Linked DNA regions of Homo sapiens. The protein of the gene in region 1 purifies or fractionates together with the protein of each later gene. This does not show direct contact. Each region holds a gene or a part of one and is shown on either strand. Other genes may lie near its edges.

Region 1 (6,616 bases):
GTCCCCCTGAACACATCATATCTCAATATATCCCACATATATCCCACATCATATGTCATCATATCTCACATATGATGTGTGTGATGTGTGGGCTGTCCCTAGCCCACAGCTGTGACATCTCCCATTCAGGAACCTGGCCAGGCCCTTAGACTCTTCCGCCTGGTGTTGTGCACATGGGACTGGGTGGTGTGCAGGCTTCTGGCCCAGCATAGCTACATTTAGAAACATAAGGCTGTGGATAATGTTTTAATGAAGTCTTGTAACTTTAGTTTGCATGTCCTTTTTCTGTTGTTAGAGATCGCAGCTGAGCCCATGGGAGAAGAAACATTTCAAAAGCAACTCTTGACTGTGTCTCAACCTTTGTCCAAACAACAGTACAAGAATAAACCATCTTAGAAACCATCTTGATGTAGGGCTTGATCATTGAACTAGTGACACACTTCTGGCTCCATCTCATACCAGGGCAAATACAAAGATTTAAATAAAATATGTGTGAGGAAATCTCACCAGCAGCTTGACATGTAATTAGATAATGAAACTTTCTTACAGCTTCGCTACCTCTTAAGTTTTAGCTTGAATGATCTTCCCCACCCTACCCCATACCCCATCCTACCACACCCCACTCAGCTCTGGCCAGTGTTTTCTCTCTTTGATCACCTGGAGGGCGTCACCCTGTAGTGAATTCATCAGAAACAAAAGGCCATGGAATCTATGACAACTCAAGCATTTTCCTAAACTCTCCACGGCCAGGTATTGTCCTTACCAATCTCCCATGTGGTCAAAACAAATTTATAATGTGGAACAGTCCCAAACATCACCTCTGTGTTCTCTGACTCATTTATTCCAGTGTATCCAACCCAGACAGGAAGAGAGTCAGCCACCCCCTCCTAGAAGGAAGTGGGCTGTCTCATGCTCAGGTAGAAGTCAGGCGGGCAGGAAGGAGCAATCACTTTTATTTTTTCAGTTATATTACCAGGTTATGTATTTGAGATATGATTTCTCAAAAGGGAAGTAACTCAGGCAGAATCCATGCTTTTAACAATGGGTCCTTGGTCTAGAAGGATCTGCGTGGGGTTTAAGGCCCTCCTGTGACTCTCTGATGAGAAGGCAGGCAGGCAGGCATGTCACAGAGGAAAAGGCAGATAAGAACAACGTGCTGGGTCATGGGAGGAGACTCCACTTCCTATGCCACATGCGCAGAGGCATGACTAGGGCCCCCCGCACGACTAGAACCGTTTCATTCATAGCAAGCCTGGCTACAAAAAGGCAGAAGGGCTGATAGTCACCTGACACACATTGCCACCTTTTCTCTCCCCAGCTAGTTCAAACTCACAAGGCCATTTGCACAGCATTTTGGAAAGCCACCCATCCCCTGGATGAAAAAGTTTTAAGAAAGTTAGTGCATAATCTAAGGGAAGGGCCTCAAAGCAGAAAAAAAAAAAGAGTGATGGCAGCAGTTGAGTTTTGTGGCTGCTCTTCCGTGCTATTCCATGGGGCGCCGTGCAACGCTGCCCTAGAAGCCTGGGTGCACTGGTGAGAGGGCGGGAACAGGCGGGAGGCTCCACGCAGTCGGTGCCCGAAGCTGAGCCTTCGGGGAAGAGAAATGAGGTCAGCTCTCCACACCCCAGTGCCCCTGTGTACCCTCAGAAGTCATAGGGGGATACAAAGATGGTGACCTTGGACACGTGGTTGGCCTGGAAGGAGCGGTCCAGGTATTCCGACATGTCGACGTCCACCTCCAGCGTCTGAGGCCCCTCCAGGTTCTGCACAAGGATCAGATCCCCAGTCTGCCGGTCTGAACGCTGCATCACAAAGTGGCCGCGGCTGTTCCCACCCACGATCCCAAACCGCAGGCTGTTGGGCCCAGCTCGGCCGGGGGCAGAGGCTGTGGCCATGCGGAAGAGCGTGATGGGCGTCTTCAGGTTGGAAGGCAGAGAGAGGTAATGGAAGGAGATGGTCTTGGGCAGATGGCGGCAGGGCCTGCTGTCCATGGGGCAGGGGTTCCGCTCACACTGGCTGGAGCGGAGAGGCAAAATGGAGGCAGTCAGCCTTGGGGAGTCTCATGAAGAGCTGCTCTGACCCGGCTGCCCACCTGCCCTCTTGCAGAGGCCACCTAGATGACCTTTCCCAGCCACGGGTCCTTCACCCAGGAGCTATGGAGCTGTGGACGAGTGAATGTAGCTGGTGTCAGGCATGGCAAAGGAAGGGCTGCTGCTTCTGTTCCTGCTCAAGGGTGCTCCCTGCCCACCTGTGTACGTGTGTATGTGTGTGCACATACATTTATTTATGCTATTACTATCATTTTTACAGAAAAATATAGCCTGGGAATATTAAATAACAATGGCAATGCTGATATTCAAACCAGGTGCCCTTTCTCCATGTGCTGCGACCTCGCCCAGTAATGGCAGGACCTCAGCAGTTAGCCAGCAACATCCTGTAATGCAGTGCTTCCCACACGGTGTACGGTGAACTTCCTAAACACAGCAGCATGTATTTTATTTATTTATTTTTAGACAGAGTCTCACTCTGTCGCCCAGGCTGGAGTGCAATGGCATGATCTAGGCTCTCTGCAACCTCCACCTCCCAGGCTCAAGTGATTCTCCTGTCTCAGCCTCCTGGGTAGCTGGGATTACAGGTGCCCACCACCACGCCCAGCTAATTTTTGTATTTTTAGTAGAGACGGGGTTTCACCATGCTGGCCAGGCTGGTCTCGAACTCCTGATCTCAAGGGATCCGCCCTCCTCGGCCTCCCAGAGTGCTCGAATTATAAGCATAAGCCACTGTGCCTGGCCATCACGTGTATTCTCAACGCAGGAAGCCCTGTTTTCCTTAATCATTTGGAAAGAGGGTCTTGTGGAAATGCTTTCGATATTTCTCTATGTTGTTAAAAGACAAATGCAATCTAGTATATTTGGCGATTCTGTAGCATCATGATTATGCAGTCAACTGTCACATCCAGCTGTTGGTCGAATGCCCCAGAGGCCGTCATAGACCCGTTCCCTATCCCTTCACCGAGTGACTTCATGAGGAAGGTTCTGATGTCTTCACTCTCTCTAAAAACTGCCATGCTTCAGTGCCACTAAGTTTCTTGCTGCTTCTAATCTGCTTTAACTCAACAGCAATTCAAATAATTAAGTTACCCTCCATGGCTGTTACTTCATTTTAAAGACAACGCTAGGGCTCTTGTGATCTCTTTTTGAGAGGAAAATGTATGTGCTTTGTGATAGTTGTAGTCATTCCCCTTAAAGGCCCATCTCCCAACTTTAAAAAAAAAAAAAAAAGCTCTACTTGCTGTTTAAGAGTTGCAGTTACTAGATGTAGAACCTTCTAGTACTATTGGAAAAGCAGAGTGATATAATGCAGGGTGCACGGGATATGCAGTGTAACTCAAGGGAGTCTATAGTTCCTGGCTATGTGAATGCTGTCACCTCCCAAATCCATGTGATCTATACCTGTCTCCTGGGCTGCTATGGGTTTATCAGGGTAATGTCACCAACAGCTTCTTCCCTTCAGTGCCTGCCCTGGCTTTGCCATCCTGGGGTGGCAGCAACCCCATCAACCTCTATGTAGTGGGGGTGCACTTAGTATATTACTCCCATGGGGAATGGGGTTCTTATTTCTCCAGAGCAGCAACGCATTAAATGCAACCACTAAGCGGAAATGGAAATTCAGAGACACCAGCCTCCCAGCCTCCTGCCTCTCATCTTTCTATGGTATAACTGTACCTTCTCCCAAGAACCTCTAGGAAGCATCCAGCCCAGCCACACTTGGAGGCCTGGGTGAGGGTGTGCCTCCCCTGGAGATACTCACAATGGAGACGTCTTCACGTAGCTCACATTGCCGCTGCCCTCGGGGCACTCAGGGCTGACACACTGGAAGCTTCCACCGGTGTTGATGCATGTGGTCCCCTGGGGGCACACCGGCTGCAGGCCCACACATTCATCCACATCTGAGATACAGGACATACAACAGGTGAGAATCGCCCTGACCTTCCCTCCATTGCAGACAGAACCACATGAGAGGCCCTGCAGGTCCTGTAATGTGGTGCTCCCTGCTCCTGGCACTTATTCTTAAAGCAGAAAGCCTGCCTTCCTTAACTGTGTGGAATCAGGGCCCTGAGGAAATGCCAGGGAGTGCCCCTCCCTGGGATCCTGTCCTCTTTCCCTGGGGTATGACAGGTGGCAAGGATGGTGGAAAGCACCAGGTGAGTGTTACTGGTCACAATGCTTCTCTTAGACCTGTCTGCTTCTCAGCCCAAGTGCCCCATTACCCTCCATGGCTGTTATTCTTCATATATATATATGTGTGTGTGTATATATATGTATATGGTATATATATATATGTATATATGGTATATATATACACACACCATATATACGTATATATGGTATATATGGTGTGTGTATATATATATACCATATACATATATATACATATACCATATTCATATATATACCATATATACACCATATACAGCATATATATACCATATACCTATATATACTATATATACACACACTTTTTTTAAATTAGAATCTTCTAGAAAGTCTTCCCTGCCAGCCTCACCCCATGCGAGTGCAGACACCTCAATATCATGATTTGTATGAGTTCTCTGCTCCCTTTGCAGACATCCAGAGAGTCTCCCCAGCTGGAGGCCGTCCCTCCCAACCCCAAGCAACCCCAGGTGGGCCTTCGTGAGCACTGTGGGAGGGAGGGAGTGTGGGTGGCTATCTGGATGCCTTCTCCTGCTCCAGCCCCAGGTCACCCACTCCTCAGAGCCCTGCAGCGGGGCCCCAATGGGATGTCACCGGGGAGCCACCTCTCCCCTCACATTCCCACGTCAGCCCATGGAGGAGCCCTCTGCCCTCTCTTCTCCCGTTCTCCCTTGGTGGGTCAGAGCTGTTATCTGGAGCCAGCGGGGCTCCCCTCTGTGTCCTGTTTCCATGGGGGAAGTCCAGCTGGGGAGGTGGGCCTGTCCACCCTCCTAGTGTGAGGTATGCCTGCAGGAGCAGAACCAGCCCCCCGAAAGGCCCACTGCAGCATGGTGGTTTAAGGGCCAAGGGTCAGGATGATCCCACTTGGGCTTCAGGCCTGAGATGTGTGCTCTGACTCAGCTCATGTGGAGATTCAGCATGTCTACATCAACTGACATCTGTATTTTCCCTAAGTGGAGGTGGGGAAACACAGGAGGCTTCCTGTTAGGCACCCAGTGTCCCTGGGACTTGTCCTGTAGTGATGATGGTGACTGTTGCGAGGGTTCTCAGCCTCTCTGTTCTACAACCAACCCACTCTGCACACATCCTTCCTAATCTCTTAGGTGCCTCCCATCCCTGCTGCAGACATTCCTTGTCAACTTAAGATGTTCTTTCCCACTCTGCCAGGAATCAGCCTCAGAAACCTCAACCCGGCCCTCCAGGAAACCACTGCTGATGGACAGGATTCAGCACTGGGGTGAAACCTGAGCCAGTTATTTTCCATCTGCGCCGCTGCCCCCCAACCCACTCTCTGCACCTGAGAGGCTGACTGGTTTTTAGCTGGGGTTGGCAAATGACAGTGACCCAGCCTGAGGAGTCCTGACCTGCCTGGATGTGGTTCTGATGGAGGCTGTGTCCTTGATCAGAGCCACAATCTTTCAGGCTCTGATAAGCCCCCTCACTTCCTGTACCTCACAAGCCAGGGGTAGTGATGCCCCCGACTCTTGTCCCTCCCTGGGTGCTCCGCCTCCCTTGTTGTCCTCAGCTACCATCAGACAAGGCTGGTGCTGTAGCGCCCGACCTCACTAAGACATAAGTGCCTGTAAGGTGCTGCCCCTTTCAGAGGTGGACTTACAGGTGGACACAGGGTCATGGAGTCTCATGGGTTCCTCCAGATTACATGACATGGGTGACCACCTGGCCACTCTGCCTTTAGGCCCAGCCCTAGCTGAAGGAATTGTTGAGTGGGTAGAATTGACCAGACCTTGAAGAAAACAAAAAACCCATTTACTCAAATAAAGTCGGAAAAGACTAGTTGCCAAGATGTTTAAGGAACTCATTTTCCTATTTATGTAGATGATAATGTGGCCTGACCTTTGAGAAGCCCTTTGGTTGGTGGCTTTTTAAAAATCCAATGTATCTGAAACTGTGACTCTCCTAACCACCTCACTCCCGACTGTGAGGTCCTGGGGGTTCAGCACAGCAGCAGGTGGCTGGGTGCAGACGACACTCTGTAGCCTCACTCACCCTCACAGCTCTTCCCGTCAGCCAGAGTTCGGTATCCACCGGGGCAGGTGCAACGGTAAGAGCCCGGGGTGTTCACGCAGGCGTGCATGCAGAGCCGGGGGCGCCCCTCCTGCCCGTAGAGCTCACACTCGTTCACGTCTGCAGACAGAAGTGCTCACTGTGACTTTAGGAGCCATGCAGCAAGTGTTGCCAGCTGTGACCCAGAACAATCATGCTTCAATTCCTGGAGGCAGTGGCAGCTGCAGTTAAGTGGCTGGGCCTCGGGCAGCCGCCATGCCCTACCCCCAGCAGAGCACTCACAAGAGGAGCAGGTGTGCTTCCCTTTCTCCTAAGCCGAGGGCCCAGAGGGCTAAAAGGAGGAGTGAGAGGGAGCTGAAGTGCTAGGCCCTAGAAAG
Region 2 (8,282 bases), on another chromosome or scaffold:
GATTACAGGCGTGAGCCACCATGCCCAACCAAGTTTCCTGTTTTAAAAACATGCCATGAGAACAAATGCATGAGAAACATCAATAACAGTGGCCTCTAAGGAGTCAAAAGTTGATGAATTTGCTCTTTATTCCCTCTCCTGGTCCCCTCTACACCTCCTACGATAATCACTTGAGTTAGAAGAGGAAGGAAATGGGGTAGAGGAAGGCAGGATAACCAGAAGGCCTGTCCCATGGCTAAAAGGCAATTCAGGTGGGAAAGTGGGAAGTGTCTAAGACAATGGGCTCATAGCCTGTTTTGGGGTGGGGGATGACTATGTGTGCTGACTAAGCTTCCTTCCTTTGTCCCTCTTTTTCTTTCCCTCCTCACAATTTTCAGCTTCCCTGAAGTGAATCAAATGACATTAGGGCTAGAAAGGAACCTATGAGAGTGTCTCAAATATAGTCCTTTGCTTGATTCTGAGCTGCAAATGGGGAGGTGGAAGAGACTAGGTAATTCCTAAGGTCCGCCCCAAAGTTCTAACATTCCATACACGTAAGCATAATTTATCTGACCCATGGACTTAGGAAGCTTGCCTACACTTCTGAAATCCTGATGGCAGGAGCTCAAAAGGAGTCAACCTTGGCCTTTTCCTTCTCACTCATTTCCTGATTTGAAAGAGCATATGGGGCCAGTCGCAGTGGCTCACATCTGTAATCCCAGCACTTTGGGAGGCCAAGGTGGGCGGATCACCTGAGGCTGGGAGTTCAAGACCAGCCTGACCAACATGGAGAAACTCCATCTCTACTAAAAATACAAAATTAGCTGGGCATGGTGGCTCATGCCTGTAATCCCAGCTACTCGGGAGGCTGAGGCAGGAGAATCGCTTGAACCCAGGAGGCGGAGGTTGCGGTGAGCCGAGATCACACCATTGCACTTCAGTCTGGGCAACAATAGCGAAACTCCATCTCAAAAAAATAAAAATAAAAAAGAGCATGCAATTTAGTTAGGAGCCCTGGGTTCCAGGCCTAGCTCCTGCACTTAAGAGCCAGAGGCGAGCCATTTCATCCCACTAGGCCTCAGTTTCCATATCTGAAAACATGGGGATAATTAACTCCTAGTAAGAAAACCACCCAGAGCCACTGAAAGGAACAGATGGAAAGAAATGAACTTGTGGGCAGTTGTGGAGGATGGAGCCTTGTAGAGGGGATTTGGGGTTTCAGCAACCAGAGCCTGTGGGCAGATGACAAGCCAGAAATGCTGCTCACCTGGCCGAAGTGGGTAGCCCTCTCGCTTCTCCACTGTGTATCCCTGAGGAATGTTGTAGAATTCCGGGAGCCCCCCAAACTGCTTCCATACAGTGTAGTAGTTGAGGAAGGTCCTCATGGCATTGTCAATGTCTCCAATGAGGCTCTGTGGGAGAAAGTGGCTGTCAGGCAGGTAGACACCAGGCATAAAACCCCACAGACAACCTTAAGAAAAGACAAAGTAAAATCTGTGGGGCCAAAAAGGCCTTGAATCAATCCCTGAGTCTGCCAGTTACTCAGTGTGGTGCTGAGCCAGGCACTGGACTTCTCTGAGCCCCATCTATAAAACGTAAAATACACCACCTATCTCATGCATTGTTGGAAGGAACAAAGATTGTATATTAAGTCCCTAAATCTTCAGAGTCAATGTCAGCTAACAGTTTTGGAATTCGGCCAGCCAGTTAAAAATTCTAAGAATAGAGAAAAGTTTGTGCTAAGGCTCACTCCCACACCACACCCCCAAAAGATAACCATTTTTGTTTTTGTTTTTGAGACAGGGTCTCGCTCTGTCACCTAGGCTGGAGTGCAGTGGCACAATCACGGTTCATTACAGCCTTGACCTCCTGGGCTCAAGAGATCCTCTCACCTCAGCCTCCCAGTGCTAATTTTTTTATTTTCTGTAGAGATGGGGGTCTCACTTTGTTGCCCAGGCTGGTCTTAATCTCCTGGGCTCAAGTGATCCTCCTACCTCAGCCTTCCAAAGTGCTGGGATTACAACCATCACCCATCTTGCCTGGCCTCAGATAAACATTACTGGTTTCTTGTATAACCTTTCAGAGTTTCTTTATGCATGAGTATATGTTATTTTCCCCACACTAAAAAATAGCCTTTGGTTCTTTATTAATAGGGATATTAATTATCTCCATATTTTTAGATATGGAAATTTGGCTTTCAGATATTTTTATTTGAATTGGTTCCAACAACTAATGTGGCAATAAATAATTCTGTATATATGTCACATCAAATAGATGTAAAATGTTATGTGTAAGATACATTTTCAGAATTAGGATCACTGGGTCAAAGGATATATGCATTTATAATTTTACCACTATTGCTAAGTAGCCATTACTATTAATGTAATCTCACAGGGAAGCAGCTGACCCTGACATCTTCATTGGATGTCTCATGGACAGAACAAACTTGGCACTTCCTAAACAAAATTCTTGGTTCCCTTACTTTCCCACGAAATTGCCTCCCTACTTTGGCCTTTTTCCCTTCTTGGTAAATGACACAATGTCTACCTGGTTATTCTGGATAGAAACCCGGTGGCCACTTTTTTTTTTTTTTTTTGAGACAGGGTCTCACTCTGTCACCCAGGCTGCAATGGCATGATCATGGCTCACTGCAGCCTTGATCTTCTGGGTTCAAGCAATCCTTCCACTGCAGTCTCCTGAGTAGCTGGGACTACAGGCATGTGCCACCACCCTAGGCTAATTTTTTATTTTTATTTTTATTTATTTATTTTTATTTTTTTGAGACGGAGTCTTGCTCTGTCATCCAGGCTGGAGTGCAGTGGCGCAATCTCAGCTCACTGCAAGCTCCGCCTCCCAGGTTCATGCCATTCTCCTGCCTCAGCCTCCCGAGTAGCTGGGACTACAGGCGCCCACCACCACGCCCAGCTAATTTTTTGTATTTTTAGTAGAGATGGGGTTTCACCGTGTTAGCCAGGATGGTCTCAATCTCCTAACCTTGTGATCCGCCTGCCTCGGCCTGCCAAAGCGCTGGGATTATAGGCCTGAGCCACCGCGCCCGACCTAATTTTTTATTTTTTGTAGAGATGAGGTCTCACTATGTTGCCCAGGTGGGACTACTTTTTCTTAAAACTTTTAAAAACGTAGATTATAAAAACATTTTGGTACATGCACTATTTTGGAACACCAAAGTGGGGTAGATTAGATAAGCTCTAAGATCCTTCCAGCTGCAACTCTACCAGACCATGTAATGGAAAAACAACGAGATGGCACAGCGGCACAAGCTGCTTCCTGCCCTTCCTGAGGCCCACTGTCAAGAATGAGATTGGACAGAAACGCCCAGTGGAGAAACACCTGTTGCCAATGGCCATTCCTGCCCAGACTGGAAATGCACTGTCGACTTTAAGTACTGTAACACTCCATGGCAAACTGGAAGCTCAGTTCCTGACACTCAATTTGGCAGAACTCTAAATCTATCTAATTCACTCTAGGTCTCTCTTCCATCCTCAACCTGTCCCTCCAAAAAAAGTACTCAAGCAATTAACAAAGTACATTATTTGACTTATACATCAGAATGAGCTTGCTTTGCCAGACTCATAGAAAGATGATCACATTCTTTGATCATTCCTACCTGAAGACCAGGCCAGTAGGCCTCCAAGGACTGGAAGACTGGCATGGACACAGTCCCCTTGTACATCTGAACCCACAGGTACCAGTCATCGAAGCGGGTGTAGTTCCGGATGGCTTTGTTATACTCTGCAGTGGGGGAGATGGGATAATGGACATATGAGTGATTAGGGAGAAAAAAGGCAGGCCTGGACAGCGGAAGCGAGAACTTACACTTTGGAAAGAGCACCAGGATGCAATGAGGCAAGGAGGCTAGACAAGAGCATGGATTCTGGAGTCAAACTTCCAGCTCAAATTCCAGCTCCAGCTCTACCACTTGCTAACCGTGACCTGGGGTGGGTTTTTCCCTTTTAAGCCTCAGCCTTATGATCTATAAAATGGGGAGGCCAGGCGTGGTGGCTCACATCTATAATCCCAGCACTTTGGGAGGCCGAGGTGGGCGGATCACCTGAGATTGGGAGTTCGAGACCAGCCTGACCAACACGGAGAAACCCTGTCTCTACTAAAAATACAAAATTAGCCAGGTGTGGTGGTGCATGCCTGTAATCTCAGCTACTTGGGAGGCTGAGGAAGGAGAATTGCTTGAACCCAGGAGGCGGAGGTTGCTGTGAGCTGAGATCGCACCATTGCACTCCAGCCTGGGCAACAAGAGTGAAACTCCATCTCAAAAAGAAAAAAGCAGAAAATAATTGATGTGGTTTGGCTGTGTCCCCACCTAAATCTCACCTTGAATTGTAGCTCCCATATTTCTCACGTGTTGTGGAAGGGACCTGGTGGGAGATAATTGAATCATGGGGGCCGTTTCCCCCATACTGTTCTCATGGTAGTGAATAAGTCTCACAAGATCTGATGGTTTTATAAGAGGTTTCCCCTTTCACTTGGCTCTCATTCTCTCTTGCCTGCACCATGTAAGATGTGCCTTTCGCCTTCCGCCACGATTGTGAGGCCTCCCCAGCCATGTGGAACTGTGAGTCCATTAAACCTCTTTTTCTTTATAAATTACCCAGTCTTGAGTACGTCTTTATCAGCAGTGAAAATGGTCTAATACAGTAATGTTAGGTATCTGTGGAATTTTTCAGTCATTTATTTATACCACAAACATTCGCTAAGCACCTACTAGGTTCCAGGCTCCTATGAGTTTGTAAACAAGACAAAATCCAGCCTTCAGAGAACTTACATTCTAGTAGGAACTTGAATTTATCCCTCATATCTCTCCCCTAGATTGTAAATCCATGAGGCCTGGGACTTTGTTTTGTCTACTGCAGAATCCCCCACACTAGTACAATGAGCAATAAACATTTTCTGAATGAACAAAGTACCAAATATACATGCAAATAAATAAGATAATCTCAAACAGGAGTTGTAAGGATTATATGAAACAGTCCATGTTCAGAGCTTGGCACAATGCTTGGTACATCCGTGGTATTCAATAAATATTTGTTGAATAAATGAGTAAAGTAGTCCCCCCTTATGTGAGGAGAATACGTTCCAAGACCCTCAGTGGATGTCTGAAACCATGGATAGTACTAAATAAACTCTATATACAGTCATGTGCCATATAACAACATGTTGGTCAACACTGAACTGTAGAGATGGTGGTCCTATAAAATTATAATAGAGGTGAAAAATCACCACAGCCTAAAGATATCACAGCTGTTGTAATTTTATAATGCAATGCATTACTTACTTGTTTGTGGTGATACTGGTGTAAACACACCTACTGTGCTGCCAGTCATAAAAGTATAACACATACAATTATGTATAGTACGTGATATTTAATAAACAACCATTTACGCGTTTATGTATTTACTATATTATTATCATTAGATAACTCCTTCCTCTTATATAAAAAAAGTCGGCTGGGCGTGGTGGCTCACACCTGTAATCCCAGCACTTTGGGAGGGCGAGGTGGGCGGATCACGAGGTCAGTGTTAGACCATCCTGCCTAACACGGTGAAACCCCATCTCTACTAAAAATACAAAAAAATTAGCTGGGTGTGGTGGCGGGCGCCTGTAATCCCAGCTACTCGGGAGGCTGAGGCAGGAGAATGGCGTGAATCCGGGAGGTGGAGTTTGTAGTGAGCGGAGATCACACCACTGCACTCCAGCCTGGGCAACAGAGCAAGACTCTGTCTCCAAAAAAAATAAAAACAAAAACAAAAATTAGCTGGGCGTAGTGGTGGGTGCCTATAATCCCAGCTGCTCAGGAGGCTAAGACAGGAAAATCACAGGAGAATTGAACCTGGGAGGCGGAGGTTGCAGTGAGCCGAGATGGTGCCACTGCACTCCAGCCTGGGCAACATAAGCAAAACTCTGTCTAAAAAAAAAAAAAAAATGAAACAGCTTCAGGCAGGTCCTTCAAGGAATTCCAGAAGGCATTGTTATCAATCATCTGAGATAACAACAGTTCTGTGAGTGTTACTGCCCCCAAAGACCTTCTAGCAGGATAACATGGGGAAGTGGAAGACAGTGATATTGATGATACTGACCCTAGGCCTAGGCTAATGTGTGTTTGTAGCTTAGTTTTTAACAAAAAAGTCTAAAAGGTGAAAACAAAATAAAAAACTAAAAACAGAAAAAAACTTAGAGAATAAGGATATAAATAAAATATTTCTGTATAGCTGTACAATGTGTTTTAAGCTAAGCATTATTACAAATGAGTCAAAAAGTTTTTTAAAATTTTAAAGTTCATAAAGTAAAAAAGTTACAGTAAGCTAACGTTAATTTATTATTGGAGGCCAGGCATGGTGGCTCACGCCTCTAATCCCAGCACTTTGGGAGGCCAAGGTGGGTGGAGATCACCTGAGATCAGGAGTTTGAGACCAGCCTGGCCAACATGGTGAAAACCCATCCATCTCTACTAAAAATACAAAAATTAGGCCAGGCACGGTGGCTCACGCCTGTAATCCTAGCACTTTGGGAGGCCGAGGCGGGTGGATTGCCTGAGCTCAGGAGTTCAAGACCAGCCCGGGCAACACAGTGAAACCCCATCTCTACTAAAATACAAAAAATTAGCTGGGCATGGCAGCGTGCACCTGTAATCCCAGCTACTCGGGAGGCTGAGGAAGGAGAATTGCTAGAACCCGGGAGGCAGAGGTTGCAGCGAGCCGATATTGCACCACTGTACTCCAGCCTGGGCAACAGAGTGAGACTCTGTCTTTAAAGAAAAAAAAAATCAGCCAGGCATGGTGGTGGGCGCCTGTAATCCCAGCTACTCAGGAGGCTGAGGCAGGAGAATCACTTGAACTGGGGAAGCAGAGGTTGCAGTAAACCAAGATCATGCCACTGCACTCCAGCCTGGGCAACAGAGCAAGACTCTATCTCAAAAAAAAAAAAAAAATTTATTACTGGAGAAAGAAAAAAAAATTTAAATAAATTTAGTATAGCCTAAGTGTACAGTATTTATAAAGTTTACAATAGTGTAATGTCCTAGACCTTGACATTCACTCACCACTCACTGACTCACCCAGAGCAACTTCCTGTCCTGTGAACTTCATTCATGTGCCCTTTTATACTGTATTTGTACTGTACTTTTTCTATGTTTATATACATACTTACCATTCTATTACAATTGTCTATAGTATTCAGTAGAGTAACATGCTGTACAGGTTTGTAGCCTAGGAGCAATAGGCTACACCATATAGCCTAGGTGTGTAGTTGGCTATACCATCTAGGTTTGCTTAAGTACACCCTATGATGTTTGCACAATGATGAAATCACCTAACGATGCAATTCTCAGACTATATCCCTGTCATTAAGCAATGCGTGACTACTGTTTTCCTATACATACACATCTATGAGAATTCTTAATTCATTAAATTTTTAAAAATTTTTATTTTTGAGACAGGGTCTTACTCTGTCACCCAGGCTGAAATGCAGTGGTATGATCACGGTTCACTGCACCCTTGACCTCCCAGGGTCAAGCAATCCTTCACCTTGGCCTCCCAAGTAGTGGGGACTACAGGCACGCACCATCATGCCCAGCAAATTTTTTTTTATTTTTTGTAGAGACGAGGTCTCACCATGTTGCCCAGGCTGATCTTGAACTTCTGGGGTCAAGCAATTCTCTCGCCTCAGCTTCCCAAAGCACTGGGATTAAAGGCATGAGCCACTGTGCCTAGCCGAAAAAGTTTAATTTATAAATTAGGCATGGGAAGAGATTAACAACAATAACTAATAATAAAGCAGAACAAGTATAACAATATATGTTATAGAAGTTATGTGAATTTGTCTTTTTGGTAAGAGACAGGAAAAAAAGAAATTATGTAAATTTAGTGCCTCAAAATATCTTTGTTTTTTTAGAGAGGGGGTCTTACTATATTGCCCAGGCTGGTCTCAAACTCCTGGCCTCAAACAATCCTCACTTCCAAAAAACTGGGACTACAGGCGTGAGCCACTGCACCCAGCCTCAAAATATCGTATCTGACTGTACTCACCTATTTTCAGACTGCAGTTGACCATGGATAACTGAAACCATGGAAATCAAAACTGTGGATAACGGGGGACTACTGTAGCTATAATAATAATAGTAATTAGGTGCTCAACAATTCCTCAAGATTGCTAGTGTCTAAGGGCCTGGCGGGTAAGATGTATTTATTCAACAGGTATTAATCTATTACCTACCACATGTAAAGCACTGTGGGGAACATAAGATGAGTAAGGCATGGATTCTGCATTCA
Region 3 (8,282 bases), on another chromosome or scaffold:
GAGTCTCCTGCTGAATAACGAGCTGAAGAAAGGACCAGCGCTGTTTCTGTTCATACCTTTTAATCCCCTGGCCGAAAGTCATCCTTTAATAGACGAGGTAAGAGCTGTGATGTGAAAAGCACCTCATGAGGAGTAGGAAAGCCTCATCTACCTGGCTCCTCTCATCCCACACTCAGTCATTTACTCTGGCAGCTAATGGCTGCCACGAGGGGCAGCTGTGGCTCTGAGCATTGCTCTTTGCCCCTCCATATGGGCAGGAGAGAGCCCGTGTCTAGGACAGGGACTGCCGCAGCCTCTCTGGCCATATTTATTGACAGCTGTTGGTGTCTGGAGTGAGTGGGAAGAGGCAGGGAAGCCACACCGTGCCCTTCTAGAGAAGGACCAAATGCCCTCTTCTGATGTGGCTGCTGTTGAGCTTCCTGTTTAGGGGGTGAAACAGGGAGTGGCAGGAACACAGGCCGAGTTTAGTGTGGCCTAGGAGATGCCATTGTCTTGGGGGTTTGGCCAGACTGCCAGCCCTGGCCATCCTCAGGACAGCAGAGGAGAGCGAGCAGCAGCAGCGATGTTGGGACACCTTGTTTCTCTGAACCTTCCCTGTCGTGCAGAAGCCAGAGTGGTTTTCAGAGGCAGCGCCATCGGAGCCTGCTGTTCCTGCCTGTCTTCGGCTTCATCTGGTGCGCCTGCTCTGGGCGTGAGTTTATTTTCCACACGGAGCATTTGGAGGCGCTCAGAGACAGCAGGCACATTTTGCAGAGCGAGCCTGGAGAGACAGCAGGCACAGTATGCAGAGCGAGCCTGGGGTGGCAAAATTGCATTTACTGAGGTTTTTATTTTTTCACTCCCTCAAGGATCCCTTAATTGGCCAAAACCAATTTCAGACAGCCAGTGTACCACTGGCCAGCTAAGCAGACCTGAGCCCCTCAGCGCTGGCCTGGCCTCCTGCCTGGAGGGACAGGGAGGCAGGACTTCTCGCCCAGGTGGATCCCTCCCTTTGCTGTGCTGGAGTCTTTTTGCTCAAGTTATGATTCCCTCTGGGGAGTATTCTGAATGAATGCTGCTCTTTGGTTTAGAGGAAGAAAGAGGAGAGAAATGAAATAGCTTTGTTTCTTCCCCTCTAATTAGGGAGGACTCAAAGTAATAAAACTATTTCTTTAGAAAATTTTCACTACATGGATATTTTGTGAACTGAGGCACCATTTCAAATGACTAGGCCTTTACTGTATCTAATATTAAGAGCCTTAAAGCTCATTGTAGGAAAGGAAGGTTTTCGGTCAAGGTGGTGTGGCTGTGGTTGTGGATTTGGAGAGTTCTCTCCTGTCTGGTTTGGGTGTGTCAGGGTCCTGGCTGGGTTGTATTTTGTGGCAGGAGCCCACAGCCTCTGCCCAGAGGGTTGTGGTTGGATTTAGGCACCTGGTGGGAAGACTCTTTCTCGCCTGTTGTTTCTGAATGAGTGTCCCCTCCAGCAGTCTGCAAATCCTCCACCTACCAACAGGCCTCCTTTTTATCATGGTTTTGCCTGTGACTCCTTTCTTTGGGGCTCCCATTGTCTCTGTGAGGTGAGTGCGTTCCCTTAACTTCAGCATGTGGGTGAGATGACCGAACACGAGGTGGCATCTCACCGTATTATGAATTACTCAGACAAGCAAAGTGCCTGTCCAGCACATTTCCCTTTTTGTTTCAGGTCAGTTTGGCAAATGTTTACTGAGCACTGTGCTGGGAAGCTCCAGGGGAGAAAGGATAGATGCGACACCATCTTGTCCTGTGGTCTTAGAGGCTTGTCCAGTACAGGGAGTGAAAGCCTGCCTATAATTCAAAGTAGAGGACGATCAGGCCCAGGGTCAGGAGGAACCAGAGGAGGGAGGGTGCCATCTCAGAAAGCGGGGTTCCGGGCAGGGGAGGAGTTAGCAGAGGCTTTGGATGGGTGAAGTATTCGAGACGGACTTGTAGGGGCAGCCAGGATCTTGATGGGTTGAGAAAAACTTACGGGAAGGAGGACCCTGAGCAGAGACATGAGGGACGGGAGTTGCTGCAGGTTTAGGTGTTAGGAAGGAGGCCGGGTTTTGTGGTCTGCAGGAAGGGCTAACTGGGGAGAGATCTTGAAAAAGCCTTTGGAGGAGAGGGCCTTGTGGACTTCTCTGAGGATTTCAAGATTAACCATAGTCATCCAAGTCTTTGTCTTCTCTTTTTTTTTTTTTTGAGTTAGGGTCTTCCTTTGTTGCCCAGGTTGGAGTACAGTGGCATGATCTCGGCTCACTGCCTCCTGAGCTCGGGTGATCCTCCCACCTCAGCCTCCCAAGTAGCTGGGACTACAGGTGCACGCCTCTACGCCTGGCTAATTTTTGTATTTTTCTGTAGAGATGGGGTTTCGCCATGTTACCCAGGCAGGTTTCAAAAGCCCTGGGCTCAAGCGATCGGTCTTCCTTGGCCTCCTAAAGTGTTGGGATTACAGGCATGAGCCACTGCACCTGGCCCATACAAGTCTTACTGACAGTGAAGAGATGCAGCCAGGGCTGTGCGTTATCATTACGAACGTTTTTCTGGCAGGAGGGTTCCAGAAAACTGCGAAGTAGTAAGAACCTGAACTTGGGTGGTAGAGGTGGAGGGTGGAAAGTAGGGTCTATGATCGGGGAAACTGTGACACAGTGACTAGAGATGAAGAAGCCTTTGGGTAAGGTGGGAAGGATGAACGCTGTACTTACGCAAGATGAGCTGTAAATTCATTAGCTTGTTGACCACGAAAGAGTTAGGTGGCTTTACTTTTTCATTACCACCTTAGGCCTAATATTGGGCAGAACTTTGAGGATGCTTGCATTGTTGAGAAGAGAGAGGTCATCTTAGAGTGAGTGGAATAGAGTTGGGGGCATACCAAGCACCAACATTCTGGACAGTTGTGCTGTGGTGCATGTAGGATGCCAGTCAGGAGTGACCATATGGTGGCCGCACCAAGCCCATAGTGGGTAGCTGCTTCTACACACATGCATACCTGCATGTGTACCCACACACACATGCAAAAGTACAGATCCTGACACTGGCGTGAGGCCACTGACACCCTGGTGTCTCTAGAGAGTTCTAGAGAGGTTATAAGACATCACAGTGTGTATTACACAACTTGTTAATCAAAGGAAATGCTTACCTCAGCCAGCAAAGAGTCTTCGTGACTTGTTTCCTATTTTAAAGGTGTTTATTTGAGGCATTCACATCGTCTGAATCTGGTAAGCAAAGGCGTGGTTAGCATGTTCAGGCTCACAGATTTCCCTGATTAAAGAAAATAGAAGGAAACATCTACTGTGCGAACAGTTATTTGCCAAGATTTCCTTAATTATTCACATGAAATAAATGACATCAAGTGATACACAGAATGTGACATGAGTTGTGTTTTCAAAACTGCCTGTTAGGTAAAAGGAATAGAAACATAAATTCCCCTTCATAGGAGAAAAATGATAATGCCTAACTCTTTAAGAGCATTGCTGGCTGGGCGCAGTGGCTCACGCCTGTAATCCCAGCACTTTGGGAGGCTGAGGAGGGTGGATCACATCACCTGAGATCAGGAATTCAAGACCAGCCTGGCCAACATAGTGAAACCTCGTCTCTACTAAAAATATAAAAATTAGCCAGGCATGGTGGTGTGCGCCTGTAGTCTCAGCTACTTGGGAGGCTGAGGCAGGAGAAACGCTTGAACCTGGGAGGCAGAGGTTGCAGTGAGTCAAGATGGTGCCACTGCCCTCTAGCCTGTGCAACTGGAGCAAAACTCCGTCTCAAAAAAAAGCATTGCTGGTCGGGCGCGGTGGCTCATGCTTACAATCCCAGTGGGATTACAGCCCTGGGAGGCCGAGGCAGGTGGATCACCTGAGGTCAGGAGTTCGAGACCAGCCTGGCCAACATGGTGAAATCTCGTCTCTCCTAAAAATGCAAAAAATTAACCAGGCGAAATAAAAATAGAAAAAATTGGCTGGGTGTCGTGATGCATGCCTGTAATCCCAGCTACCTGGGAGGCTAAGGCAGGAGAATTGCTTGAACCTGGAAGTGGGAGGTTGCAGTGAGCTGAGATCATGCCATTGTACTCCGGCCTGGGCAACAAGAGTGAAACTCTGTCTCAAAAAAAAAAAAAAAAAAAAAAAAAAAAAGCATTGCTGTAGACAGAATACTTTCTTCAATTAAAAATATTCTTTACGTGGCTGCTTTGTTTATGAGATACTGAAGCTAAAAGAGATGAAGAAAGATTTTTCAAGGAATTTTCTTCTCTATAATATAATTAATGATCTCCTACTTGGACTTCTGTAAAAGATTACAGTAAATCGTGAAGTCTTATGGAGGTTTTTGCGGGAGTGGGTGGGAGTAGTTGTCTATTACTGCGTCTTTGAATCTAAAACAGTACCAGGATGGGGCCAGAGGGCATCTGGGCTCTTCACGGATTATATAGGCTTGACCTTGTTAGTACTGCATGCTGTCAGAGCCTCATCCAAAAACCACTGAGATGTTTTTGTGCAGGGGAAATAAAATTTCAAGCACTGGCCTATCATCTAAAGTGACTTCTTTTCTTGACCCAGTAGTTTTCTGGTGGGTTATAAAGTGACTTTTTTTATGCCGAGAACTATTGAAACAATTTATTTTTGTGTACAAATATGTATGTTTTGAATTAACTATAAATATTACGTTATAAAACTTTTTTATTTTTATTTTTATAAAACTTGTGTTTTTAAATTGGAAATTACACTCATTGAATTGTTTTACACATGCAGACACACAGACACACACACACACACAGCGAAACAAAATCCTGAGTGACAGCACCCTGTAACTAACTGTGGTGAGATTTGATTCAAGTTGACAGACTCTTCTGTTTTAGAGAGTAAATGCCTTTGGATTATAACTTACATGTCTTTCTCAGGAAACCAGAATGGGAGGTGGGTAACGAAATATTCTTTTTGGAAATGGAAGAATCTTAGAATAAAATATAAATTCAAATTGCCAATACTGGCTTGACGGTAAAGTGGCAAATCTCACCAAGACAGAGGATTGTGTGCATTACCCTGAGCTGCCACTCATTCATCAGGGGTTTACTGAGCATTTGTTATGTGCCTGGCCCTGTGCTAGGCCCCGGGGATGGCAGGATAAATCCAATGTGGCTTCTGCCTGTGAGGTTCTGTAAGTTTGTGGGGAAGAGGGATGTCTCAGCAGAAGCTTGTGAGACTGTAGAAGGGGTCTCAGGGACACTGGAGGTGCAAAAACTAGCTCTTCCTGGAGTGGGAGTAGGACTAGCTTCCCTGAAGCAGCTGCCCTGGTGCTGGGCCTTGGGAACAGATGGAGGAGCCGGTGTCCCCAGCCAGGACTCCGTAAAGGTGTGGCATTGCAGGAGGGCCTGGTCTGTTCTGAAGAGGGTAGGGTGAGACTGGAAAGCCAAACGGGCCAGATTGTGTGGAGGTTTTATCTCATGGGCAGCGTACCATTTGGCCCAGGAGTGCCATGCCTGGGGTTGTATTTTTAAAAATATAGTAACCATCTCCCCCTGCACTCTCATCTACCCTGCTGCGTATTCTTGGTGATACGTTCCAAGACCCCCAATGAATGCCTGAAACCACAGATGGTACTGAACCCTGTATATACTACACACGAATTTCACTTTTCTTCACAATTTCATGGGTAGAAGATTCGTTCTTACCGAAGATCTTAACATCCTTACCTCTTTTTTTTTCCTTATTGAGACTTTTGCCGTTTCACTTAAAGGAAGCATTTTTGGCTTCTCTTTGGCATATCTGAATTGCCAGCATCACTATCCTTACACTTTGGGGGCCCTTCTAATAAATAAAGGGTTACTTGAAGACAAGCACTGTGATACTGAGACAGTTGATCTGATAACTGCGTTGGCTACTAAGTAACAGGCTGGCAGCATCCACAGCATGGACACGCTGGACAAAGGGATGGCTCGCAGTTTTTGTAATGGCAAAAATTTCATCACACTACTCAGAGCGACATGTAGTTTAAAACTTACGACTTGTTTATTTCTGGAATTTTCCATTTAGTATTTTTGAACCGGAGTTGACCATGGATAACTGAAATTACAGAAAGTGAAACGTGGCTAACGGGGTGCTAGTCCCTCAGTCATCCCCAAGCCCTTCACCAACTCTGCCCTGTATTTCAGATCACCGAAGTGGCCTTGGAGTACAACAACTGTCATGGGGACCAGGTGGTGGAGCGTCTCCTTCAGCACCTGCGGCGGGTGGATGCTCCAGTGCTGGAGTCCCTGGCCCTGGAAGTGCCGGCACAGCTGCCAGACCCGCCAACGATCACAGCGTCCCCCTGCTGCAACACTGTGGTGCTGCCCCAGTGGCACTCCTTCTCCAGGACCCACAACGTCTGTGAACTCTGTGTCAACCAGACCTCCGGGGGCATGAAGCCGAGCTCGGTCAGCGTGCCACAGTGCAGCTTTTTTGAAATGGCAGCAGCTCTGGATTCTTTCTACCTCAAGGAGCAGACCTTTTATCATGTGGCATCAGACAGCATAGAATGCAGCAATTTTTTAACTTCCTATAGCCCCTTCAGCTACTACACTGCATGTTGCAGGACCATAAGCAGGGGTGTGTCAGGCTTCATCGACTCTGAACAAGGTGTCTTTGAAGCCCCTACTGTTGCATTTTCTTCCCTTGAGAAGAAATGTGAGGTTGATGCCCCAAGCTCCGTTCCTCACATTGAGGAGAACAGGTATCTCTTTCCAGAAGTGGACATGACTAGCACAAACTTCACAGGCCTGAGCTGCAGAACCAACAAGACTCTCAACATCTACCTTTTGGATTCAAATTTGTTTTGGTTATATGCAGAGAGACTGGGTGCTCCGAGCTCCACTCAGGTGAAAGAATTTGCGGCAATTGTTGACGTGAAAGAAGAATCTCATTACATCTTGGATCCAAAGCAAGCACTGATGAAGCTCACCCTAGGTACTGCAGGCAGTTTATTTCCCCAAGCATTGTACATTTTGCTTGACTTCATATGGGTAAATTTTATTGATGGCTCTCATTACATTTAGTTGTGGGGTGATGTCACCTTCGTAGCTCATTTTAAGTCTTTAGACCACCATCAGTCATAATTTTCAAAGAAGCTAATTTTGTCTATTAAATGGAACAGAAACTTCCTCACTCTGAATTTTGGATAAGTTTGTCATTTAGCCCATGGTGGGGGTAAGAGTCCCACTTTCTAAATTGGCGATTTCTGTCACATGTCTAAGGTAGAACCAGCTGCAGGCAGTGGGGACTTGGGGACTAGAACAGGCAGGGAGGTGGAGAGCTATTCTGGTGGGATGTCCTAGGGGCTGATGAAAGTGAGCCTTGACAGCAGCTTTGTTCTAAAGGAGCTTAAAGAGAAAGCAGTGGCCGGGCGCAGTGGCTCACGCCTGTAATCCCAGCACTTTGGGAGGCCGAGGCGGGTGGATCACGAGGTCAGGAGATCGAGACTATCCTGGCTAATGTGGTGAAACCCCGTCTCTACTAAAAATACAAAAAAAAAAAAAATTAGCCGGGCGCGTTGGCGGGCGCCTGTAGTCCCAGCTACTCGGGAGGCTGAGGCAGGAGAATGTCGTGAACCTGGGAGGCAGAGCTTGCAGTGAGCAGAGATCGCGCCCCTGCACTCCAGCCTGGGCGACAGAGCAAGACTCCGTCTCCAAAAAAAGAGAGCAGTGAAGAAGGAAGTAGAGCCGCCTTGCCTCCCTTTTTGTCTCATAGGCTTAAATGTCTAAGGATCAAGGCCACCAGACCTAATTTGTTCTGCTGCTGTTTCATAATGTACTGAGTAATATTGCTGGGACCTGGGGTACCTACACTGTAACAAGTGTAAAGTGCAAATAAATAAGTGTCAGTCGCAAACCAGCAAAACCCACTTTTTGAGGAGTAAGGCTCCATGATGAGAAAGCACCCAGAGCTTGCCCCTGGGACTTGGCAGCAACATTGGGCTGACCCACCCTGGCCTGTTCCCAGGAATTTGCTGATGCCCTTGACTACACACAATGAAGTGAGAATTCAAAAGCCACGTTAGTTCAGCCTCATTGGAAACGGGAGGGAGGGTCAGTGTATGCCGAATGGAGAAAGGAGGAATTTGGTAGGGAAGGAAACCTTTCATTTCAAGTTTTAAAGTATGAACTCAACAGTAGACTCAGAGCTTCTACATATGAGTCTTTTTAGCCATCCTCTTTCAAATCTAGGTGAAGCTTGTTTCTTACATTAGACACATTTGTGAAAAGGCTTTATGTAAATATTGATTTTTCTATATCAAGTTACATATTATAAATCCAAGAG
Region 4 (8,282 bases), on another chromosome or scaffold:
AACTCGAGAGTTTTCTTTGATTTTTCTTCTCCCCTCACATCTAATCCATCAGCAAATCCTGTCAGCATTGCCCCAGCACTGATTTTGGCTCTCTAGGGCCTCGGTGTGACCGTGGCTTCTTGCCATGACTGTTGCAGTAGCACAGTAGCATCCAGCTGGGTCTCCCTGTTTCCATACTTGCTCCTCTATAACCTGTGCTTAATGTGGCCCAGCCAGTTGTGCCTTGTCTGATCCCAGCCTCTTTTTCCCCTTCAGTGACTTTTCTCTAGCCCAGCTGACCTCTCTTTTCCTTGTAATTGCCAAGCCTATCACTGCTTTAGCACCCCTGCACCTGGTATATCTTTTGCTGAGATGTGTTTCCCACCCCGCCCAATCACATCTTTCAGACTGAGCATAACCTCCCTGCCCCCATCATGGTGCATTCACAACTGGATTCAGGTCCTGTATCTGCCATTGATTAGCCATGTGGCTTTAGCACAGTTTTTCAAGTTCTTCATCTTTCAAAGTAGGATACCAGTACCTGCTTCACAGGGAGGATATAACAGCTGCAGAGGGCTTGGCCATGCCTAGAGTCTCATGACCCCTTAGGAAATTTTTCATGATGAGACTCAAAGATAGTGTTCAATGTTAGACTGGTTTCGCTACAGAAAACAGGAATACTTCCACTGAACAACCGCATACGAAAGCTAAATCCTGCTAGTGTAAAAATCATCAGATTTCACTGGATAGAATGAAAGAAGAATAAGGAAAGAGGAATATGATAAAAATAAAAAGAGAAGTAAAATTTGTAGCAGAAATTCAAATTGGTGATTTGCTGAATAGCAGAAAATCTAAAATGAGGAAAAACAGTATTGCAAGCTATGAGGAGAAGATAGAAAACAAATAGCATCAACATAAATAGGCCTGCCTGATTCTCTAACACCTGAGAGCATTGCCTTGCCACGCTAAAGGGAGAGTAACTAAGGAAGGCTTCTTGCAGTCTGGGCTGGGGTTGTGGGGTAGGGGGATTCAGTAGCAGTACAAATGACAATGTTGTTATTACTGTAATAATGGTGATAATGACACCTAAATACTTAGGGCCAGGCATTTTTCTAAGTGTTTTAATCTTCATAACAATGTTACAAATAGATATTATTCCCATTTTATGGGAGGGAAATCTGTGGCACAGGGTAGTTAAGTAATTTGCCCACAGTCACCCAGCTGGTATGGAAGAGCCTGAATCTACAGCCATGCATCCGGACCCCATACTCGTCCTAATCCCTGAGCTGCACTGCAAAGCCAAGTCCTGCCCATTCACTTTCTTTAGAGTATTATACACAGGAGATACTCTGCTGGAAGCCAGGTCAAGTTACATTGGGATGCAATACCCAGTCTTAACCATGTTGCAGTGGAATCATGCAACATGTCCAACCTCTACACAAAAGAAGCAGAGCAGTTCAATATATCATAGAAGTTAATCACAGAAGAGAAAGTGGGCATCTTTGCATAACTTGAAGCCTAATAGGAACATTTGAATGCATAGTATGATTCAGGTAAACCTGTGACCTAGCATATAATTTATTTTTATTTATTTTTAATTTAATTTAATTTATTTATTTATTTATTTTGAGACAGAGTCTCACTGTGTCACCCAGGCTGGAGTGCAGTGGCACCATCTTGGCTAACTGCAACTTCTGCCCCCCAGGTTCAAGCGATTCTCCTGCCTCAGCCTCCCAAGTAGCTGGGACTACAGGCACGTGCCACCATGCATGACTAATTTTTGTATTTTTAGTAGAGATGGGGTTTTACCATGTTGGCCAGGCTGGTCTTGAACTCCTGACCTCAAGTGATCTGCCTGCCTCAGCCTCCCAAAGTGCTGGGATTATAGGCGTGAGCTGCCATGCCTGGCCCTAGCATATAATTTAGATAGGTGGCTAGTCACTCTTTGCTATAGAATATTTGAATAGTCATTTAAAGTTGTTACCTGGAATTCTATGTCAATTCCCAGGAAAAGGCCATAGAGTAGCCTTTTCTTTGACCTGAGGATAATTGAAGAGGCAAATATATTAGTAATAATTATGAATTCATTTATTCATTCATCAAATATTTATTGAGTGCTTCCTTTAGCTAGACATGGCCCTAGGTGACTGGGAATATATAATGGATAAAATATATAAGCTTCCTGTCCTGATGTGTAACATCCTAATGAGAGGAAACCTGTCCCCCACCACATATACTTAGGCAGATTAGCACTTGGCCAGAGGAAGAAAATAGCTGTGGAGTGGACAATGGTGTCTTCAGCGGCCGAAAGGAGGGGCAGGGGAAGCCCCAGCAGCAGGAGCAGGTGTGTGGCAGCCCTTCACAAGGGGCTTTCATGTCTCAGTTGTATGTTGCCAGTGTCACTTTGTTCATTGTCATAGTTGAGGGAGAAGACTTGCAACAAGAAGATGGACCCACAGGAGAACCACAACAAGAGGATGATGAGTTTCTTATGGCGACTGATGTAGATGATAGATTTGAGACCCTGGAACCTGAAGTATCTCATGAAGGTAGAACACTTTTTTTTCAAGTTTTAGGATAAAATATAATCAATGACTTCTAATTACTGAAGTTTTTCTTAAACCCCTTTAAAACTGATATTTAACTTTTGCTTAGATTTTTAAAAGTTGAAGCTTAAAGCTTCAATTAAAGCAAATTTTTTCTTAAAATAGATACCTTGATTTTGGTTCAAAGCACTTTTCAGGGAAACTCAGAATATACAAATTTCTTATAAATAGTGAGTCAAATACTTGAGGAAACTAGTTTTACTATATTCTTCTGCTTAGGGTGCTATTTGTTAAATAAAATTCAAACAACTGATGAAATATTGGACTTGATAATCTATCACAGGCTCATGTTCACACATGAACTCTGTAATTACAGTGAGCAAAACACAATTCTTAGCTTCTGTACCAGGCATTGGCAAACTTTTTTTTGTAAATAGCCAGAGAGTAAATATTTCAGGTTTTCTGGATCGTACAGACTCTGTTCAGCTACTCAACTCTGCCATCACAGCGTAAAAGCAGCCTTTGATAGTTCCTAAGTGGGTCAGTGTAGCTGTGTTTTTATACAACTTATTTGTAAAATCCTACCCAACATGGCTGGTAAGTGCAGCGGCTTGAACACAGCTCACTCCAGCCTTGACCTCCCATGCTCAAGCAGTCCTCTCACCTCAGCCTCTCAAGTAGCTGGAACCACAGGCATATGCTACCATGCCCTGCCAATTTTTAAATTTTTTATAGTGGCAAGGTCTCCTTATGTTGCCCAAGCTGGTCTCAAACTCCTGGCCTCAAGCAATTCTCCTGCCTCAGCTTTCCAAAGTGTTGGGATTGCAGGCATGAGCCATTGTGTGTCCAGTTAGCAAACACTTTTTAAAAGCATAAAAATGAAAAGTAGTTTATCTACTTTGCACAATACTAAATATTTTGGAAAATTACTTTAGCAGCAGGTAGCTCCTACTTTATGAGTACATGTATTTCCAAAAACTTATATCCATGCCTATTGTTTAGAACAGGAAATGCACTTTCCCATAAAAATATGGGATGGTTTGGTTTTCAAAAGAATTGTATATAATGCATAATTTTCTGTGAAAAATACAAGCACACAATCCTTTTGAACATCTATATGATTTATTTTTGCTGCATTACACATTGAAAATAAGCACTTATAGACTACCTTCAGAACTTTATGCCTTTAGTAATCATTTATGTCATGATTTCTTTGGGACAAGGTTTCCAGTTTCTGAGTAGGGATACTGATAAAATGATTTCCACATTTCCTGTTGCTTCTTCTCTCCAGTCTTTGGCCTAAATGGCTCAGTAAGATTGACAGTTGCTCAGAATTTTTCTATCTACATGCTGCTTATACAACAAATTTCAGTTAAGATGCTGAAATAAACAGAAGCATGAGGAATTTGATATTCTTAAAGTTAGGAGTCACAGATTGGGAGTAGGAAGAAACACTTTTAAGAAGTTCACAAATTGCAGAAACCTTACTTTCTGATCTCATCTTTAATTAGGACATAGATGCAGTTTGAACTTAAAAGTTGGTTGTTAAAAGTCTTCAGAAAATAAAAATATTTATTCTTTATATATGCATTAAATAAAATTAGCAAGGTCATAAGTGTGGTGACGGACAGATAGCTCTTCTGCTATCTGGGGTGTATGGGTTAAGTGTTCAACACATTTACCCTTCAGCTCCCTAAGGGTATAAAGCCTCTTCAGCTGTTTTTCTCTGTTCCCATCCATAGTTGCTGTACTTTCGCTCTAGAAAATGGTAGGACAGGTCGAGGAGATAGCACATTCTAGTGGGTTGTGAAGTGGATTAGAAATGAACGGCTTTCCTGGTCTGGCCTGTGTCACTCTAAGTTGTCCTCTCTCTTTAGTCCAGGGGGTGGTGGTTGTCAGCCTTGTGGGGATGAGTGGACTGAGAAGGAGAATGTGTGAGACATCCCACAGTGTACTTCTAGTGAAATATAAAAGTGTTAAGCAGACTTTTAATTGATAGTCCCATTTTTTAATTTTTTAAATAAAATTAATGATAAGCATAGATTCAGAGTACATATACGGGATATATACATACCATTTTGTAAAAGCAGTAAATATCAATCTAATTTTTTTTTTTCCAGAAACCGAGCATAGTTACCACGTGGAAGAGACAGGTGAGATTTTAATTTAATTCTGTTCTTAATTAGAGTGAGTCTTCCTTTAAAAGGGCATCATAAAATACATAATATCTATTATTAATGATATATTTAAATTAATATATGCAAGATATGCAATTAATAATTTTATTACGTCTTATATTTATGGTATTTCTTTGTGAATATACTTTTTTGTGTTTTGATGCCTAGTTCCTGAGGATAAATTTTCAGTAGGATTACTAGTTCAAAAGATACAATTGAATTGCATGTTTTGTACCTTTCAATTACAGAGTCAACGAAAGGTCTAAATCATGTTTTGTCACATGCCAGCGCCCTTAAAGGGCATGGCCACAGGAGGTGGGCGCATCATCTGTCAGCACTTTACTGTTTTGCGGTTTGAGTGTAAACCAGTTGATGACAGGCCCCCCTTACTCATCTTTGCATTTGGCATTTAACACACTTAATACCTATTTGTTTCAGGAGTGAACATGTTTGAATATCATTATGACTTGATTTTGCATTTCAATCATAACTAGAAATTGTGTCTTTCTGGTTTCGAATATTACATGTATTCCTTATTTGAGACGTAATTTCCTAATTATTCCATAATTTATAGTTTCACAAGACTGTAATCAGGATATGGAAGAGATGATGTCTGAGCAGGAAAATCCAGGTTTGTAAATGTTAAAATTATTGATATGTGTTTTCTGATTGAGGCAGTGGCCAAGGCCGTTTTATTCCAGGGTTAACAATTGTGATTCAACACAGAGATCCCTGTATGGTATTTATAATCACTTTTGATTGGTCAGATGTTTATAGAAATGTCTGAATATAGTTTAATACTACATAGAGGGATGAGAGAAAAAGGAGACGTATTTTTCAAACCACTGTTGAGACTTTGGTCTTTGTAGGTAAGGTGCTGGAAAGAATATTTGAAAATTGAAGGGGCAGTATGATGTACTATAAAGTCATTCTGGGTACAAATCCCATTTCTACTCTTTCCTATCTTTTTGACTTAGGCATCAAATTGTGGAACGTTATTCAGCTTAAATTTTATTAAATGATAATGAAAACATCTATCTGGCAAAGTTGTGAAGATAATTAATTTATGAATCTCCTAGAATGCTGTCTGGCAATGTGTTTGGTTTTTTCCTGTTTGGCAAAGGTGTGTTTTTGTTTTTTAGATTCCAGTGAACCAGTAGTAGAAGATGAAAGATTGCACCATGATACAGGTATTAGATGAGCATTTTCATTAGATTTAAAATATTACCTTAGATTTTTCAATCACATGCTGTGTTTACATGGTGATTTTTCTTTTAAAGGCATCAAAGAAGTAATTTCGACATCTAATGCATGAGATTTTGTTTTATAACAAAGTTAGACTGTTATAAGAATATCAGGCTTTCATATTTCACCTCATCAACTAACCATTCCATAACAAAACAGGATGTCAAATTTTAATGCTGTTTTTGTGTATCAAATTCCTCTGTGCCAATTTGAGAAATTTTAATGAAAATAATTTACCTGCCTTTTAATTGCTTTTGGGCAGAGGCATTTATTATTGACTGAGCAGACATTAATATTTGAAGGAGTAGAGTTCTGTGTTTACGATTAAGTAGTATTTTGTTTTAACTGAACAATTGTATAGAATGACTCAGTTAATACTTATTTTGCTTTTATTCTCTTTTTTTTTTCAGATGATGTAACATACCAAGTCTATGAGGAACAAGGTTTGCAAATGCTTTCTTTTTTTTTTTTTTCTTTTTTTTTTTGAGATGGAGTTTCGCTCTTGTTGCCCAGGCTGCAGTGCAGTGGCACAATCTTGGCCCACTACAACCTCCGCCTCCTGGGTACAAGCGATTCTCTTGCCTCAGCCTCCTGAGTAGCTGGGATTACAGGCATGTGCCACCACGCTTAGCTAATTTTGTATTTTTAGTATTTTAGGGTTTATCTCAAACTCCCGATCTCAGGTGATCCTCCCGCCTTGGCCTCCCAAAGTGCTAGGACTACAGGCATGAGCCACTGCGCCCGGCCTGCAAATGCTTTCTAACCTTAAGCCACCTTCTTGTTTTAAAATATACCTATAGTTTGACTACAAGATGTGGAACATTATGCTTTAAACTATAAACTTTGCAACTTAAAACATCCAGATGAACGGTAGCGTTCAAAGAATTCACTTGGGGAGACTGTTTACCCATTCCACGGCTTCTGCCATTGCCTAAATAATTTCTTAAACTCTTTACAAGTTGCCTTAGGAGGCAGTTACAGTCATTCAAGAAAACCAATCTCAGTACTTTATAGTTGTGTCTCTTTTGACTAAAATATGCATGAACAACTACTTTAGCCGGAGTTAAATTGCTCTAGCTGCTTCTACAGGTTAATCCCACTCTCAAAGATGACTGATTTGTCACCTTGGGGAAGGTTAAGAAGCACTGTGTTCCAGGCTTAAAGGCAGTATGGAGAAAACAGTTCTGGCAAATTTGTGGCATCAGCAGCATCTGATTCAGTTTAGGCCTGTACCTCCCTCCTCTTGTGTCCAAGCATTGCATAGACTATTGTGTTGAACTCCATGAAGTAGATTTTATTTTCCCTGCTTCCCAGAGGACAGAAATAAGGTTCTGACATTATAAATAAGCTGCCCAAGAATGTATGGCTAAGAAGTAATAGAACCAATAATATATCCTTTTTATTCCATTATCCTCAAAGATGATTATGTAGAAAGAGAGAAGTCAGTTGGGTATAACTTTATGTGTAAAGCAAGAACGATGAAGAAATACATCGTAATTGAGTTGGTGGATATGGAGGACTTTCTATGTTCTAGATGGTTTTAGGGCCTGGAATTCAATTATGAGTAACATAGGGTCCCTCCTTTCAAGGAGTTTACAGTGTCATGATAGATAGTGAATCACAATTGAAGAAAATTAGGAGTGTTTATAAATATGAATCATATTTATATGATGATTTAAGATTTGAGACCCTACCAAGTTCATCATCTATAGTGGCTATTTCTAATGGGATATGAATGACACCATGGGAAAAATCCTAGGTTGTGTCTTTAAGGTACTGATAATTTTTATGAAAAGTTAAAGAATTTGGACCTGATGTGTTCACAGGAAGATTTGGGGCCGAGGGAAGGTTGGGGAATAATTTGGTCTTGAGATTGCACTTAGATTTTCTTTCCAATCTTGAATTTGAAGGAGAAAATAGGAATTTATAAATACAAGTTGCATGTAATGATGGGATTTGAGATATTTTCCTCATTTCTACTGATCATTATAATGTTTTTAAAAATATAAAGAACATGTTTGGAATGCAATTTGAAGACTAAATCTAGAGGAATTTAAATTCAAACTCATAAGAAGTATAAAATTAGATACCATGCGAAAAGAATGTTATATGTTTTCATAGGGCAGAGTATCATAATAAATGTAATTTAAAATGTTAGCAAAAGGCAGTAAATATAACCTAAGAGATTGACATGATTTGGTAAGCTACTTTGGATTTCTTTGTTATATAGAACATAAACTGTTTCAAACAAATAGATCTAATTGAACAGTGTATTATTCACTATATGCTAAAACAATACCTTTGTGAAAATTCAGGAATCAGAGCAGAGAAACCA

Evidence for each region.
Region 2: the proteins of FBLN7 (region 1) and EDEM2 purify together in Homo sapiens (affinity purification with mass spectrometry; 4 studies listed by BioGRID and IntAct, with this or other methods). This does not show direct contact.
Region 3: the proteins of FBLN7 (region 1) and TXNDC11 purify together in Homo sapiens (affinity purification with mass spectrometry; 4 studies listed by BioGRID and IntAct, with this or other methods). This does not show direct contact.
Region 4: the proteins of FBLN7 (region 1) and ASPH purify together in Homo sapiens (affinity purification with mass spectrometry; 3 studies listed by BioGRID and IntAct, with this or other methods). This does not show direct contact.

What each region holds. Positions count from the first base shown.
Region 1 is NC_000002.12:112,182,534-112,189,149, reverse strand, and holds the end of FBLN7 (fibulin-7 isoform 1 precursor), read right to left. Parts: intron 6,360-6,616; coding exon 6,222-6,359; intron 3,950-6,221; coding exon 3,811-3,949; intron 2,162-3,810; coding exon of another isoform or gene 2,143-2,161; exon of another isoform or gene 2,017-2,142; coding exon 1,644-2,016; 3' UTR 1,589-1,643; coding exon of another isoform or gene 1,514-1,588; 3' UTR 932-1,513; downstream 1-931. UniProt on the Homo sapiens protein: An adhesion molecule that interacts with extracellular matrix molecules in developing teeth and may play important roles in differentiation and maintenance of odontoblasts as well as in dentin formation.
Region 2 is NC_000020.11:35,122,644-35,130,925, forward strand, and holds part of EDEM2 (ER degradation-enhancing alpha-mannosidase-like protein 2 isoform 1 precursor), read right to left. Parts: intron 3,733-8,282; coding exon 3,608-3,732; intron 1,392-3,607; coding exon 1,247-1,391; intron 1-1,246. Other genes in the region: MMP24-AS1-EDEM2 (ER degradation-enhancing alpha-mannosidase-like protein 2), read right to left, coding at 1,247-1,391, 3,608-3,732. UniProt on the Homo sapiens protein: Involved in the endoplasmic reticulum-associated degradation (ERAD) pathway that targets misfolded glycoproteins for degradation in an N-glycan-dependent manner.
Region 3 is NC_000016.10:11,689,940-11,698,221, reverse strand, and holds part of TXNDC11 (thioredoxin domain-containing protein 11), read left to right. Parts: coding exon 1-97; intron 98-6,139; coding exon 6,140-6,932; intron 6,933-8,282. UniProt on the Homo sapiens protein: May act as a redox regulator involved in DUOX proteins folding. The interaction with DUOX1 and DUOX2 suggest that it belongs to a multiprotein complex constituting the thyroid H(2)O(2) generating system.
Region 4 is NC_000008.11:61,640,996-61,649,277, reverse strand, and holds part of ASPH (aspartyl/asparaginyl beta-hydroxylase), read left to right. Parts: intron 1-2,399; coding exon 2,400-2,528; intron 2,529-4,645; coding exon 4,646-4,678; intron 4,679-5,276; coding exon 5,277-5,333; intron 5,334-5,844; coding exon 5,845-5,892; intron 5,893-6,357; coding exon 6,358-6,390; intron 6,391-8,282.